Regions from separate parts of the Homo sapiens genome. Here regions 1 and 3 are each linked to region 2. Evidence: fine-mapped expression QTL. A gene starts in region 2. Each other region holds a variant in brackets. All regions are shown on one strand. Distances are from middle to middle. Region 1 overlaps FXYD5 (FXYD domain containing ion transport regulator 5). Region 2 holds the start of FXYD7 (FXYD domain containing ion transport regulator 7). Region 3 has its middle 33 kb from the start of FXYD5.

What was found. PIP is the estimated chance that this variant, and not a neighbour inherited with it, causes the effect.
Region 1: its variant is the best candidate, but not a certain one, in a credible set for the expression of FXYD7 in whole blood (INTERVAL, PIP 0.83).
Region 3: its variant is the best candidate, but not a certain one, in a credible set for the expression of FXYD7 in blood mononuclear cells (TOPMed, PIP 0.54).

Annotation. Positions count from the first base shown.
Region 1 is chr19:35,164,387-35,169,610 of GRCh38, reverse strand. FXYD5 (FXYD domain containing ion transport regulator 5) reads right to left here. Exons shown (of 9, transcript NM_014164.6): 7 at 3,440-3,469; 8 at 3,286-3,360; 9 at 1-45. Among named protein-coding and RNA genes, the nearest start is that of FXYD5, 12 kb to the right of the region's middle. The variant A/G (reference allele first, on the strand shown) is at 1,886.
Region 2 is chr19:35,141,159-35,146,383 of GRCh38, reverse strand. It overlaps FXYD7 (FXYD domain containing ion transport regulator 7), which reads right to left and starts at 3,129. Exons shown (of 6, transcript NM_022006.2): 1 at 3,020-3,129. The coding sequence starts at 3,050. FXYD1 (FXYD domain containing ion transport regulator 1) reads right to left here. Exons shown (of 8, transcript NM_021902.4): 4 at 5,178-5,225; 5 at 4,812-4,848; 6 at 3,863-3,912; 7 at 3,613-3,664; 8 at 3,275-3,467. The coding sequence ends at 3,642. RefSeq lists enhancers at 2,346-2,907, 2,908-3,468, 4,592-5,154 and silencers at 4,789-5,008, 5,119-5,225.
Region 3 is chr19:35,185,593-35,190,817 of GRCh38, reverse strand. No RefSeq gene overlaps it. Among named protein-coding and RNA genes, the nearest start is that of FXYD5, 33 kb to the right of the region's middle. The variant A/T (reference allele first, on the strand shown) is at 2,582.

The sequences.
Region 1 (5,224 bases), 23 kb before region 2:
TGCAACGATTCCGGCATAACCGGGACAGCTGCCTGCACTTGCCACCTGTGGGTGAAGGAAATGATTCAGTCACGAGCTAGAGTGATATTGATTCTTATCGTGTGTTGTGGGGCTGGGGAACCAGATTGATCAACCCTGCCCCTCGGGAAACTCAAAGGCAACTCCATAAACAAATGATGGAGAAACACACCGAGAACAGCCAGTGCTGGGGCCCTGCGAGAGGCCCTTCCCACACAGGCTCACAGATGAGCCGTTTGGAAACTCCCATTATTTTGTATCTCACTTATTCATTCATTCAGGCACTAAGAACACAGTTGAGGACAAAGAAAAAAATCCCTGCCCTGGCAGAGTTGTCTTTCTATGGGGAAAGACCAACAAGGAGAAAAATTACAAAATCAAATGTATGAAGGTGCTAAGTGGGAGGGTGTTAAGTCCTACAAAGGGAAATAAGGCCAGGAAGGAGGCATGGAGGCCCAGGAGCTGGGCTCATCCTCACAGGGATGGCTACTGGGGCTTCAATGAGGAGGTTACTTTTTTTTTTTTTTTTTGAGACAGAGTCTTGCTGTGTCACCCAGGCTGGAATGCAGTGGCACAATCTCAGCTCACTGCAACCCCCACCTCCTGGATTCAAGCGATTCTCCCGCCTCAGCCTCCCGAGTAGCTGGGATGACAGGCATGTGCCACCAAGCCCAGCTAATTTTTGTATTTTTAGTAAAGACAGGGTTTCACCATGTTGGCCAAGCTGGTCTTGAACTCCTGGCCTCAAGGGATCCACCTGCCTCAGCCTCCCAAAGTCCTGGGATTACATACGTGAACCACTGTGGCCTGCCAAGGAGGTGACATTTGAACAAAGGTCTGAAGGACGTAAGGGAGACACCTGGAGGAAGGGTGTTACAGGCAGAGGGAACAGCAGCGCAAAGGCCTTGAGGTACGAGGACACAGATGGGTTCCAGAGACTCATCTGTGGCTGCTCCAGAGTGAGGGAGGGGGAACTTAGAAGCCAAGGGTACTTTAGAAAACACCTGCCACCCTTGCCTCCTCCAGCCCCTCAGCTCTCTGGCCTCGTCTTCTCCTCTCCCCCAACCTACCCTGTCCTGGCTACTTTGCCTCCTCTGCTGCTATAGCAATGGGCGCAGCTCATTCCTGCCTCCAGGGCTTGGCACTTGCTGCTCTCTCTACCTGGTGATTCATCTCATCATCAGGGATCAGTTCCAATTTCACCACTCCAGGGAGGGCTTCTCTCCCCACCCCTCTCTTCCCTGTCACTCTGCTTTATTTGGCAAATATCTTTCTCTGTATCCACTCATTCATGCATTTATTTGCTTATCATCTTCGACCAGATGTGAGCTCCTGAGGACAGGGACCAGGGCTGCTTGTCACCACCATGCCCCCAGCATCACCCAGCACAGGTTTGGCACAGACTAGGAGCCCACAAATATTTGCTGTTGGAAAAATACATGGCCCCAGAGCTAACGTTCAGGCTCTGCTCTCACACAAACCTGGGTCCAATCCTTCACTGATTCTTTTTTTTTTTTAAGTAAAAAAAATTATTTGTGTAGAGATAGGGTCTTGCTATTTTGCCCATGCTGGTCTTGAACCCCTGGGCTCAAGCCATCCTCCCACCTTGGCCTCCCAAAGTACTGGGATTACAGGAGTGAGCCACCGTGTCCCGCCAGCAAATGAATTTACTGACTCTTCTGTGCTGTGTGACCTTAGGCAAACTCCTTAACTCTCTGAGCCTTAACTTCTCCACTGGGGTGAGAATAGGACCTGGTGCAAAGTCAGGATCAACACATACATGTTGTATGACCGAGGCAACAGTGCTTGACTCTCAGATTCAGTGGGGATCACGCACACATCAGGAATCATGTCTTATGATTGTTAG[A/G]ATTCTGCCTCTCCCCTTAAGGCAAAAAAAGATGTGGCTATGCTCATTTTCTTGATGAGGAAGTTGGACAAGAGAGGTAATGAAACTTGGCATTGGTTATACAGATTAACTGATAGCTCGTGTTTTATTTCACCCACAACATTTTAAAAACCTTTTTAAAAAATTAGTTTCTCTGCTTGTTATTCTGCCTTTCCCCACAACTTCCTCTCCCTGCATGGGGCCCTGGGCCCCTTGCCCTCTGGTTAAGCATTGGCAGGAGACAGGGGGGTGGGAGGAGAGGGAGGTTTAGGTATCTGATCCCCACCACCCCTGCTCCCTCCTGGTTTGGTCACAAGTGAGGCAGTGGCTGGAACCCTCTTTCTGAGGCCACAGCTCCTGCCAGCAGCCCCACCTCCAGTTCCATCTCTCACCAGGCCTCCTGCAAAGCCAGTGCCTCCTCTTGTCCCTCAGGCTGGGGGATAACAGGTCCCCATCCTTGCTAGTCCTAGGGCACTGCACCATCTCATTGCCCTGCCTGTACCTCCAGAGATATCACTCTATTAAACTTTCTCCAGTTAATCGTTTGCAGGTCCTTCTGCCACCTGCCATGACCCTGATCAACACAGCTGTCAACATTTGAGTACCAAAAGATTTTACAGAAACATTAAGCTCTTAAAAGAGTAGTTACTCTGGCTGCTTCAAGCCTCTATTCTTGCTGGATTGAGTGGGTGGGGTTGTTCCATGAGGCATTTAATCCTCAGTTATCTCCTCCTGACACAGCCTTTTTCAGCCCTTGTTCCCTGCCAGGCCTGGGTGCAGTGGGCTTGTGACTGCTGGGGTGGTATGCTGACCGCCAAATGGCCCTTAGTCTCTACCCCTCCCTGTCAGTATCCATGTCCTTTGCCATGTGACTTTGCCTATCTTCCCATCAAGAGGTGGAGTCTATTTCCTTGAATGAAACCCAGCCTCATGACTTGCTTTGACCTATGGAATGAGGCAGAAGTGATAATGGCCAGTTCTGAGCCTGCATGCATTCACTCTATCTTAGATCCCTGCCACCACCATGCGAACAAGCCCAGGCTAGCTTAGTGAAGGATAAGATGATGTGGCAAAGAGCCAAGGCACCCCAGAAACAAAGTTTCCTGCTGACCCACAACTGAACTCAGATGCAAGAGTAAATCCAGTTGAGACCAGAAGAATCACCCAGCTGAGCCCAGCCTATGTTTCCAAACTGTGGTATTGAGAGCTCAATAAATGGTCATTATTTTAAACCACTGAATTCTGTGGTGGTTTGTATGTATATGCAGCTAATAGATACCTCATTTAAAACAAAATTGCCCAGGGACCTTTGAGAACCCAGCCCTCCGTCATAAGTCCCCCTCCTGGTCTTGGTGTCCTTCCCACCCAACCCCAGTTCTCACTGGTGAGGATGATGATGCCTGTGATGAACAGCACAGCTGCGACCAACAGCCCCCGTTTCCGGAGGGTGTGTTCATCTGCAGAGAGAAAAATGAAGGGGTAGAGTCAGACGGACCTCACCTTTCCTTCCCCCACATCTTCCTGTGGATAACTTACCATAGAAGAAGGGGTCATCCTCATGAAAACCTGGAGAGGCAGACAAAGAGCAAGTCAGGGTTCAGCAAAGGTTTGTGAAGTGAATACGTGAATGGCAAAGTCAGGAAAGGGGGATACCTGGGTACCCTTAGAACAAAACCCAAAATCTTCACCATGGCACACAATCTGGCTCCCATTATTCCTCTAATCTCATTTCCTTCCTATCCCCCTCACTCCCTGCACTCCAGCCCTACTGGCCTCCCTGCTGTTGAACATGCAGACACCTTCTCACCTCAGGGCCTTTGCACTGGCTGTTTCCTCTGCCTGGAACACACTTTCCCTAGACATCCGCATGGCTCCCTCCTTCACTCCCTTCCCAGTGGGGCCCTCCCTGGTTTTGTATATGAAATACAGGTTGACTATCCCTAATCCCCAAATCCAAAATCCAAAATGTCCCCAAATCTGACACTTTTTGATGTCATGTCAGGGGTGTTTGAACCAGAGCAACTCCATCTCGAATAGGGTAAAATAAGGCTGAGACCTACTGGGCTGTATTCCCCAGAGGTTAGACATTGTTAGTCACAGGATGAGATAGGAGGTCGGCACGAGATACAGGTCATAAAGGCCTTGCTGATAAAACAGGTTGCAGTAAAGAAGCCAGTTAAAACCCACCAAAACCAAGATGGCAATGACAGTGACCTCTGGTCATCCTCACAGCTCATTATACATTAGTTATAATACATTAGCATGCTAAAAGGCACTCCTACCAGCACCATGACAGTTTCAAATGCCATGGCAACATCAGGAAGTTACCCTATACAGTATAAAAAGGGGAGGAATCCTCAGTTCTGGGAATTGCCCACCCCTTTCCCAGAAAACTCATGAATAATCCACCCCTTGTTTAGCATATAACGAAGAAACAACCATAAAAACAGGCAACCAGCAGCCTGTGGGGCTGCTCTGCCTATAGAGTAGCCATTCTTTATTCCTTTACTTTCTAAATAAACTCTATGGACTCTCTGAATTCTTTTTTTGTGCAAGATCCAACAGCCCTTTCTTGGGGTCTGGATCGGAACCCCTTTCCAGTAACAGTCTGACATGACACCGAAAGGAAATGCCCACTGGAACATTTTGGACTTCAGATTTTTGGGTCAGGAAAGTTGAACTGGTAAGTATAATGCAAATATTCTAAAATCTGAAATCTGAAAGTCTCCTGGTCCAAAGCATTTTGGATAAGGAATACTCAACCTGTACTCCCCAGTCACTCTCTAACCCTACTTTACTTTTCTTGATAGCAAGTTGAAATCAACTGATACATAATTATGATTATTTCTTGTTGTGTTTCTCTTACCACTAGAATAGTAGTTCCATGAGGGCAGAGATTTTTTCTGGCTTGTTCACCACTCTATCTCTGTCCCCTAGAACTAGCCTAGCACACAAGTACTCAGTGACTATTTGTTGAATGAATGGATGAATGGGCTCTCTATGTGACCCATGGGCGTATCATTTCCATTCATTCACTGGGGGGCTGACTGGGCAGGAAGTGGTGGATAAGATCACCAGGGAAAGAATCAAATTGCCCCTAGAAACAGAGGTCCTTGCTGACCCACAACTGACCTCAGACGCATGAGTAAGTCCAGCTGAAACCAGAAGAACCAGCCAGCTGAGCACACCCTAGATTTCCAAATTGCAGAAATGAGAGCTAAATAAATGGTTATCCTTTTAAGCCACTGAGTTTTTAGGTGGTTTGTATGCAGCAATAATTTATGCATTCACTTATCTATTCAGACATTTATCATGTGCCCA
Region 2 (5,225 bases):
GGGCGGATCACGAGGTCAGGAGTTTGAGACCAGCCTGGCCAATATGGTGAAACCCCATCTGTACTAACAATACAAAAATTAGCTGGGTGTGGTGGTGTGCCGCTGCTAGTCCCAGCTACTTGGGAGGCTGAGGCAGAAGAATTGCTTGAACCCGGGAGGCAGAGGTTGCAGTAAGCCAAGATCGTGCCACTGCACTCCAGCCTGGATGACAGAGCGAGACTCTGTCTCAAAAAAAAAAAGAAGATTAATTTTCCAGTTGTGATGGTGCTATAAAATAAAGCTCGTTGTTTTCAAAAGCTAATCCTGGGTTGGGCATGGTGGCCCACGCCTGTCATCCTAAGCACTTTGGGAAGCCAAAGTGGGTGAATTGCTTGAGCCCAGAAGTTTGAGACCAGGCTGGGAAACATAGCAAAAGCAGTCTCTATGAAAAATACAAAAATTAGCTGGGTGTAGCAGAAGTGCCTTGTAGTCCCAGCTACTTGGGAGGCTGAGGCAGGAGGATAGATTGAGCCCAGGATGTTGAGGCTGCAGTGAGCTGTGATCGTGCCATTGCACTCCAGCCTAGGCGACAGAGTGAGACCTTGTCTCAAAAAATAAAAATAAAAAAGCTAATCCTTTTAAGGAAAAAAATTAAATAAATAGCAGTGTGAGGAATATTTGAATAAAGCAAAAATTGTGACGGTAGTACTCAAAAGCGCCAAGATGGTGAGACGCTGCTTCAGGGTCCCTTGTGCTCTGTGTAAGTTTCCCCACCAGAGAGTAAATTTGTTTGACTCATCACTGCTGTTCATCCTGACATTTATGAAAGGCTCTTCAAGTTTTCTGGGATGAATGAATGAAGGAATGATTATGAGGCAGTCCTAGGCTGCAGGAGGCTGTAAAAGGTGGATTGTCTCACTTGTCTGTTTTCCACACACCCGTCCTTCCCCAAAGTTATCGGGAGCCCACTGGGTGAGCCCCTGTCCCAGAATCTGGTGTTCCATGTGGAAGATCCTCCTCCATGCGGAAGATCCTCCTCTGGTCCCTGCTGCCCCGGCAACCTGGGCCCTCAGGCGTGGCTGGGCTAAGGGTGGGGCCAGGAGTCAGGCAAAGGAATGTGCACTACTCCTGGCCAGCTGCCAAAGAGATATCAGGAAGGAGGTGGTTGCTATGGCAACTGGGGCATCTTGGGAGGTGAAGAGAGGTGATAGGTCCCGCCACCCCAGGCTGGGTGGGGTCCCCTGTGAGGTCCTGTGTGAGATGCAGGTTTCAATCTTGACCCTCTCCCCTCCTTTTGCACCTCCTGCCGTTGCCCCTGCAGGACTGGCTTCTGGCCAAGCTAAGGGTCCATTTCAGGGATAGGGACCCGGACCCAGCTGTGCTCATGCATCCCTCTTCTGTTCACTCCTAACTCTCCCTCCTGTTCTCTGGCAGGGTGGAGGGAGACTCTCCCCTCTTCCCCCCTCGCTCCCCAACAATTCATTAATTAGTTTCCTTAAGCAGCTTGCAATGCACAACATGCTTTTCCTCCCCCGGGGTTTCCCGAGACCTGCGGTCCCCTGTCATGCTGTGACTGGGAAAGGGGGAGGCAGAGGAGGTTGGGTTGAGGAGTCTGTCCTCCCACCTCTGCCCGTCTGCTGCCATCGATCCTGCTAACCACCACCTCTGCAAAAAGAAGCCCTGGGCTCCCGCCAGGCCTGCTGCCTCAGCCCTGCCCCCCTCCCTAGGGTAGCTTCCAGCCTCTGCAGCCCCCCCCACCCCCCGCCCTGCTTCGGATTCTGCAGATATGGCTCAGTGCAGCAGCCCCCGCCTGCTGGGAAGCGCGGAAGGGAGGGAGCCATCCAAGTGGAATTCGGGTTCCCTTCACTGCCAGGGGCTTCTCAGCACCCCTGGTCCCCTGCCCTCAGTGCTGGAGACCCTTGCTGGGCACTGGCTCCCTCTTGAAGCAGTCTGTGCCTTGCTCATCTGCAGAAGCAGGATTAGCAGTGGGGGCTATTAGGGGGCGACGGTAGAAGTGGGTGTTTAAGTGGGTGCATAACTGGGTTAATTGGTGTGGAATGGAAATCAGTGTGTGGCTGGATGGGGGCAGTAGGGGCAGCTAGGTGTATACCCAACAGCACCTCTGGGATTGGAAAACACCCCTGCTGTGGGCTGGAAGGAGGGTCCCATCGCCCCATTCCCACACATAGGGTCTCACTGCAGTGGTTTGGGCCCCACCCCACATGGCTCCCTTCTTCTCTTTCTACTCCCCTCTCTCCCCATGGGTCCGTCTCTCTCCCTCCGTCTCTCTGCTTCTCTCTCCATAGCGGTCTCAATCCCACTATCTCCCAGGCTCTCATTTTTTTTTCTCTCTCTCTCTGCATCTCTGTCTACTGCTCTCAGCCTCTCCCCTCCACTGGGAATCTCTCTGAGTCCATCTATTTGTCTTCCTGGGTCTTTGTATCTGTGACTCTGGATCTCCTGCCTCTCTTGGTCTCTGTCTCTTCCAGGTTCTCCCTGTCTGTCTCTTGCTATATCCCTTCTCTCTGTCTCTTCCTTCAGCTCTCACTCCTTTCCTCTGAACCTGGCTGTCAAGGGTTTCAGGAAACAGACACCCTAGGAGACAGCACTGGAAAGAAGAGGGACATGAACCTCCTCCCCTTCCCTTGCCCACCCCAGGGACCCTGAAATCTTCCAGAACGTCTCTGGTCGCAGACCCACCCGCTCCCACCCTGCAAGCTCATCTCTTCCCCGTCTGCTACCACCACGGTGCGGGACCAGCCACCCGGTTGCCATAGCGACCTGTCCGAGCATCCCTTCTCCCGGGACTGCCACTCTCCAACCGCAGGTCTGGCACAGGACGCCTGCCGGGGAGGGGGTGTCCCAGAGACCCGGAGGGGCGATCGGGGGGGCGCATTACAGGGGCTTCCGCCCACAGGAGGAGCGGACCTCCCTCCCCCAACTCCCTTGCCTTACCATTGCTTGAATCTCCCGACACCCTCTCTCCTAGGCTCTCAGATCCCGGAGCCCCCCTGCAACCCCCTCCCCAAACGACGCTCACCCTTTGTGGGGGTCTGGGTCGGGGTCGCCATGCTGGGCCGGAGCAGGGGGCTGCTGGATGCTTTGGCGGCGAAGGCGCGCTGCAGCAGCTGGAAGCAGGACGGACCGATGTGGGGGGGAGCTGGGGGGAGCCCTGGCGTGGGGGGGCCTGCAGCCAATGGGGGCCCGGGGAGCCCGCCCCCGTGCAGGCCACCCCCGCCCCCGCCCCCGCCCACCACCGTCGTCCCCGCCCCTTCCTCTAGGGTGGGGCGCCCCCTGCTGGGGCCCAGTGGCGCTGGCGTTTCGCGCTGAGGGACCGAGACCGACAAAGTGCTGTCGAGAGGAACGCACGTTTTATTGGAAGTCTTGGCGGCAGGGGGAGTCTGCGGGGGCAGGGCTGGGGAAGGGGCGGCGGAGGGGGCGGTGGGCGCGCAGGTGGAGCGTGGGAGATGTCAGGTGCCAGGGGAGTCCTGTGAGGGTGAAAAGGGTGAGAGGCGAGGGGGGACGTCCAGCCCCACCCCTCGCCGCCCTTCAACTCTGGCACTTGGCCCCCTCCCTCTCCCGCCTTTCCTTCCTCCCTCCTTCCCTCCCACCGCCGTGTCAGAGCTGCAGCACCTGGCCGGATTCCATCGCTCCAGGTGTTTCTACCGCCTGCGGGTGGACAGACCTGGGGGGAACACGGAGATCGGGGGTCATTCTGGAGAGGCATCCCCAGCTCCTGGGCAGGTGGGGCCCGCGGCGGGGCAACTCCCCGCCCTCCGCTTTCAGATCCAGCCCTTCCCTCTACGCAGCCAGGGAGGGCCGGGAAAAGCGGTCCTTGGAACCAGCCCTCTCCCCAGAATACCCGCAGTCTCCCCAGACTCACGGCGGATGGAGCTGCGGAAAGTTCCCTCCTCTTCATCGGGTTCCCCAGTCCTGGGAAGACAGAGGCAGAGGGATTTCGGGATGGAAAGGGGGAGAGGCTGCCCTTCTAGGAACCCCCCAGTACAAGCCTCCTTTCCCAGATTGGTGTAACTAGGCCCAGATATGGACGAAGAGCAGGCTCGGGGTCCGCCAGAAATGAGGAGCACCCAGGAGCAGCTTATGTGCTGGCAGGGGGCTTCTAAGCTGGTTAACAGTGAGTACCTCCGCGGATTTGGGGGCAGGGATGTGAAGTTGGTGGGGGAGGGATAGTCATGGGGACTTGGCAGACTGCCATGAGATGGCCTGGGTTGGAAACCCAGAACCCCCCATCTTCCACTTGAGTGATCTTGAACAAAGTGACTTTACCTCCCTGTGCCTTAGTTTCCTCATCTGTCAAATGGGGTTAATAACAGCACCTCCCTCCCAGAGGAAGTGAAACCGTATCTAACACGTGGTACACACCCAGTAAATATTAGCTACTACTTATGATAATATCTATAATTGTTCTAACATATTCATACATTGTCCATGCTTTAACATTTTATTCGAAGAGGAATCAAAGAGCTAGGAACAAGACTCTAAGCTAAACTGGGCCGCGTGTGAGATGATCTCATTTCACCGCCGTTTCTTCTTTCCTGCACTTTGTGTTATCACGCTTTGTGATTTTTCTATCTGTGGGGCTGTTGGAACCCACGGCCACCGCCTCCACTAGGCTGGGAGCTCGGCCAGGAAGGGCGGGAGGTTTTTTCCTCGCTTGGTCCCAGGGCCAGGCTTGGGCCATGGCACATAGTAGGTGCTTAATACATAGTCGCTGACGGGGATCGGGCTGCGGGTCAGGGGTACTCCCCGCCTCACCCGCGGCGCCCTCCAGAGCAGGAGCGGGCGAAGGAGGGCGGGGAGGGGCGTCTTACCTCTGCTGCTGGTTGAACTTGCACCGGCATCTTCTGCCTGTGGGCGTGGAGAGGTAGGAGAAGCTGAGGCTCCCTCCCGGCGGGCGCCAAGCGGCGCTGTAGCTCCAGCTCGCCCTCGCGAGGGGCGGGGCTTGGGGGACGGGGCGGGGCTAGAGGCGAGACCGGGGGCCGGGGAACCAAGGCAGGGTAGGCGGGGCAAGGCCTGGGAGGGGTTGGGGCGGGGCGGGGCCAGGGAGGGGCGGGACCAGGGAGAAGCGGGGCCAGGGAGAGGGGGGCTAGGGAGAGGCGGGGCCAGGGAGAGGCGGGGCCAGAGAGAGGTGGGGCCAGGGAGAGGCGGGGTAGAGGGCGGGAGCTAGGGGCACTCACTCAGCACGATGAGGATGCCCAGGATGAAGAGGATCCCGGCGATGACGA
Region 3 (5,225 bases), 44 kb before region 2:
AAGAGATAGAGGTAGAGATAAAGAGAGAAGAGAGAGAAGGGAGGGATTATCAATATTAGGGTAGAAAGAGGACAGCTATCACCACAGACCCTATAATTATTAAAAAGCTTATAAAGGAATATCAGTAATAACTCTATACACATAAATATCAAAATTTAGATGAAATGGACCAATTTCTCAAAAACTACCAGCTACTACATTCACCACTGTTGAAATAGATAATATGAATAGTCTAGTAACTATTAAATAAATTGCATGTATAGTTAATGCCATTTTAAAAAATCTCCTGGCCCAGGTGGTTTCAATGGTTTTAAATAAGTAATTTAAAGAAGAAATAGCACTAATTCTTCATAATTTCTTCCAGAAAATACAAAAGGAGAAATACTCTCCAACTCATGTTATGAAGCCAGCATTACCCTGATGACAAACCAGATAGACAGTACAAAAAATAATAATAAACACAACTAAAATACTCCTCATGAATATAGATGCAAAAATACTCAATAAAATGTTAGCAAATTGAACTCGGCAATATGTAAAATGAGTAGTAAACTATGACCGGCCGGGCGCGGTGGCTCACACCTGTAATCCCAGCACTTTGGGAGTCTGAGGTGGGCGGATCACCTGAGATCAGGAGTTCAAGACCAGACTGACCAACATGGAGAAAACTCATCTCTACTAAAAATACAAAATTAGCCAGGCATGGTGGTGCACAGCCTGTAATCCCAGCTACTTAGGAGGATGAGGCAGGAGAATCACTTGAACCCAGGAGGCAGAGGTTGGGGTGAGCCGAGATCCTGCCATTGCACTCCAGCCTGGGCAACAAGAGTGAAACTCTGTCTCAAAATAATAATAATAATAAATGAATAAATACAATAAACTATGACCAAATGGGATTTATACTAAGAATGCAACAATGGTCCAATTTTTTAAAATCAATCACTATTACCATATTAACCATCTAAAGAAGAAAAATCATGATTATATCAATAGGTGCAGACAAAGTATTGACAAAATAAAACACTCATACATGTTTTGTTTTGTTTTGCAAAAAATAATCCTAGCAAACTAGGAATAGAAGAGAACTTCATCAACCTGATAAAGAGCATCAAAAAGCCTACAGCTAATATCATACCAAACAGTGAAAAATGAATGCTTTCTTTCTTAAGATTGGGAACAAGACAAGCATGTTCACCATTTCTATTCAACATCATATTGAAAGTCTTAGCCAGTGTAATAAGTCAAGAAATGGAAGTAAGAGGCATATAGATTGGGAAGGAAAAAATAAAACTGTTCCCATCCCCAGTTGAAATGATTGTTTATGTAGAAAATCTCAATAAATATAAAATCAATCAATAAATAAAACAAAAAACCCCTGGCACTAATAAAGAAATTTTGTAGGAAACACAAGCTAATATGGCAGATGTAAATCCAATTGTATAAATAATAACATTAAATGTTGATGAAATGAACAATTCAATTAAAAGTCAAATATTTCAGACTAGATTTTTTTTAAAAACCAAGATACAGCCAAAAGCTATCTATAGGAAAAACATGTAAGATTCAAAAATGTAAAGTAAAATGATGAAAGACAATATATCAATATATCATGCAGTGACTACAAGAAAGCTGGAGTGGCAATACTAACGTCAGAAAAAATAAGCTTTGTAACAAAAAAGTTATTACAGATAAAGAGAAGCATTGTATAATGATAAGGCGGTCAGTCCATCAGAATATATAACAATATAAACACATATACATCTAATAATAAAGCACCAAAATACATAAAGCAAAAACTAATAAAAATGAATAGAGAAATGAACAAATCCACAATAATAGTTGGAGACTTCAGTACCTCACTTCCAATAATGGATAGAACAACTAGGCATAAAATCAACAAGAAAATGGAAGATCTGAACAGTATTAATCAACCAGATATAACAGACAACTATAGCACACTTCTCCCAACAAAAGCAGAATACACAATCTTCTCGACTGCACGGAGAATATTCTGTAGGATAGAACCTGCACTAGGCAACAAAACAAATCTGTATAAAATTTTGATTTTAAAATTAAAATCAAAATCATGCGGCTGGGCACAGTGGCTCATGCCTGTAATCATAGAACTTTGGGAGGTTCAGGTGAGAGGATCACCTGAGGTCAGGAGTTCGAGACCAGCCTGGCCAACATGGCGAAACCCTGTCTCTACTAAAAATACAAAAATTAGCCAGGCATGGTGGCGATCTGCAATCTCCACCTCCTGGGTTCAAGCGATTCTCCTGCCTCAGCCTCCCAAATAGCTGGGACTACAGGCGCCCGCCACCACTCTTGGCTAATTTTTTTGTATTTTTAGTAGAGACAGGGTTTCACTATGTTGGCCAGGCTGGTCTTGAGGCCAGGCTGGTCTTGAACTCCTGACCTAGTGATCCACCCTCCTCAGCCTCCCAAAGTGCTGGGATTACAGGCATGAGCCATCGTGCTGGCCGTAAATTCTTTTTTTTTTTTTTTTTTTTTGAGATGAAGTCTTGCTCTGTCGCCCAGGATGGAGTGCAGTGGTGTGATTTTGGCTCACTGCAACCTC[A/T]GCCTCCCGGATTCAAGCGATTATCCTGCTCAGCCTCCAAAGTAGCTGGGATTACAGGTACCCACCACCATGCCTGGCTAATTTTTGTATTTTTAGCAGAAATGGGGTTTCACCATGTTGGCCAGGCTGGTCTCGAACTCCTGACCTCAAGTGATCCACCTGCCTTGGCCTTTCAAAGTGTTGGGACTGGCGTGAGCCACTGCGCCCAGTTGAAATAAATTATTAGAAGACATATACTACTGAAACTGATTCAAGAGAAATCAGACAATTTGAATAGTCCTCTAATAAGTAAAGAGATTGAATTAATGACCAAAGACACACACACACATACACACACACACACACACACACACACACACACACACCAAGAACCAGATAGCTTCACTGGCAGATTTTTCTAAAAATTTAAAGAAGAGCTAATACCAATTCTTCTCAAACTCTTGCAAAAATTAAAAAAAGGAGGCAACGCTTTCCAGTGGATTATTTGGGACCAGTATTACCCCAGTACAAAAACCAGAGAAAGACACAAGAAAACTACAGACAAATATCTCTTATAAATATAAATGCAAATATCCTTAACACAATACTAGCAAACTAAATCCAGAGACATATAAAAAGTGTTATAGACCACGACCAAGTGGGACTTATTCCAGGAATGTAACAGTGGCTTCACATCTGAAAATTAGTGTAATACACCATATCAACAGAATAAATTACAAAACCACATGATCATTTTAATGGACACAGAAAAGTCTTAAACCAGATGGCTTCATGAGTTAGTTCAACAAAACTTTTTTTTTCTTTTGAGACAGAGTCTCCCTCTGTTGCCCAGGCTGGAATGCAGCAGTGTGATCTCGGTTCACTGCAACCTCTGCCTCCCAGGTTCAAGGGGATTATCTTGCCTCAGGTTCCCGAGTAGTTGGGATTAGAGGTGCCTGCCAGCACGCCAGGCTAATTTTTGTATTTTTAGTAGAGACGGGGTTTCGCCATGTTGGCCAGGCTGGTCTCGTACTCCTGACCTTAGATGATCTGCCCCCCTCGGCCTCCCAAAATGCTGGGATCACAGGCGTGAGCCACCACACCTCATCACTGCAGCCACTATGGAAAACAGTCCAGTAGTTCCTCAAACTGTTAAAAATGCAGTCACCATTTGACCCAGCAATTTTATTCCTAAGAGAAATGAAAACTTATGTCCACATAATAACAAATACATAAGTTTATTTTCATATTATTCATAATAGCCAAAAGGTGAAAACAAAACCAAATATCTACAAACTGATGGAGGCATAAACAATATTTGGGGGGGCGGGGTCTGTAAAAAAAAAAACAAAAAAAACCCCAATATGTGGTAAATCCACACAATGAAATATTATTCAGCCATAGAAAGGAACATAGTACTGATACATGCTATGATGCGGATGAACCTTGAAGACATTACATTCAGTGAAAGAAGCCAATCACAAGACACCACATATTATATGAATACATTTATATGAAATGTCCAAAATAGGAAAATATATAGAGACAGAGAGTAGACTAGTGGTTGCTTAGGGCTGAGACATTTGGGAACAGGAGGAAAATAGCTATGGAGCATTGGGTTTCTTTTGTGGGGGTGATAAAAATATTTTAAAATTGGTCTGGGCACGGTGGCTCACACCTGTAATCCCAGCGCTTTGGGAGGCCGAGGCAGGTGGATCACGAGGTCAGGAGATCGAGACAATCCTGGCTAACATGGTGAAATCCCGGCTCTACTAAAAATACAAAAAATTAGCTGGGCGTGGTGGCGGGCACCTGTAGTCCCAGCTACTCGGGAGGCTGAGGCAGGAGAAAGGCGTAAACCCGGGAGGCCAAGTTTGCAGTGAGCCGTGATCATGCCACTGCACTCCAGCCTGGGTGACAGAGCAAGACTCTCTCTCAAAAAAAAAAAATGTTTTTAAATTGATCGTGATGATGGCTGTACATATCTATGGATATACTAAAAACCATTGACTTGTACATGATTTTTAAAAATTTTTAATTGCTGTGGGTACATCATAGGTGTATTTATTTATGGAGAACATGAGATGTTTTGATACAGGCATGCAATGTGAAATAATCAGATCGGCTTGTATGCTTTAAATGTGTGAACTGTATGGCATGTGAATTGTATGGTAAGCGAATTCTATTACAAAAATTAAAAAATTAAAATAAGAAAAAAGAGTTGCCCTTTCCATGACAGGAACAGTTCAATGTGGCTGGGCGCAGTGGCTCACACCTGTAATCCCAACATTTTGGGAGGCTGCGATGGGTGGAACACCTGAGGTCAGCAGTTTGAGACCAGCCTGGCCAACATGATGAAACCCTGTCTTCACTAAAAATATGAAAATTAGCTGGGTGTGGTGATGGATGCCTATAATCCCAGCTACTCAGGAGGCTGAGGCAGGAGAATCTCTTGAACCTGGGAGGTGGAGGTTGCAATGAGCCGAGATTGTTCCATTGCACTCAAGCCTAGGTGACAAGAGCGAGACTCTGTCTCAAAAAAGAAAAGAAAATTAAAAAAGAGACAGTTCGACGTAATTAATTAGCCATCAGCAGACTGGTTGATTGTCCTGAGGAATGGTGCAATAAATCATTGCTAATTATAGTCATCCTACAGTGCTAAGGA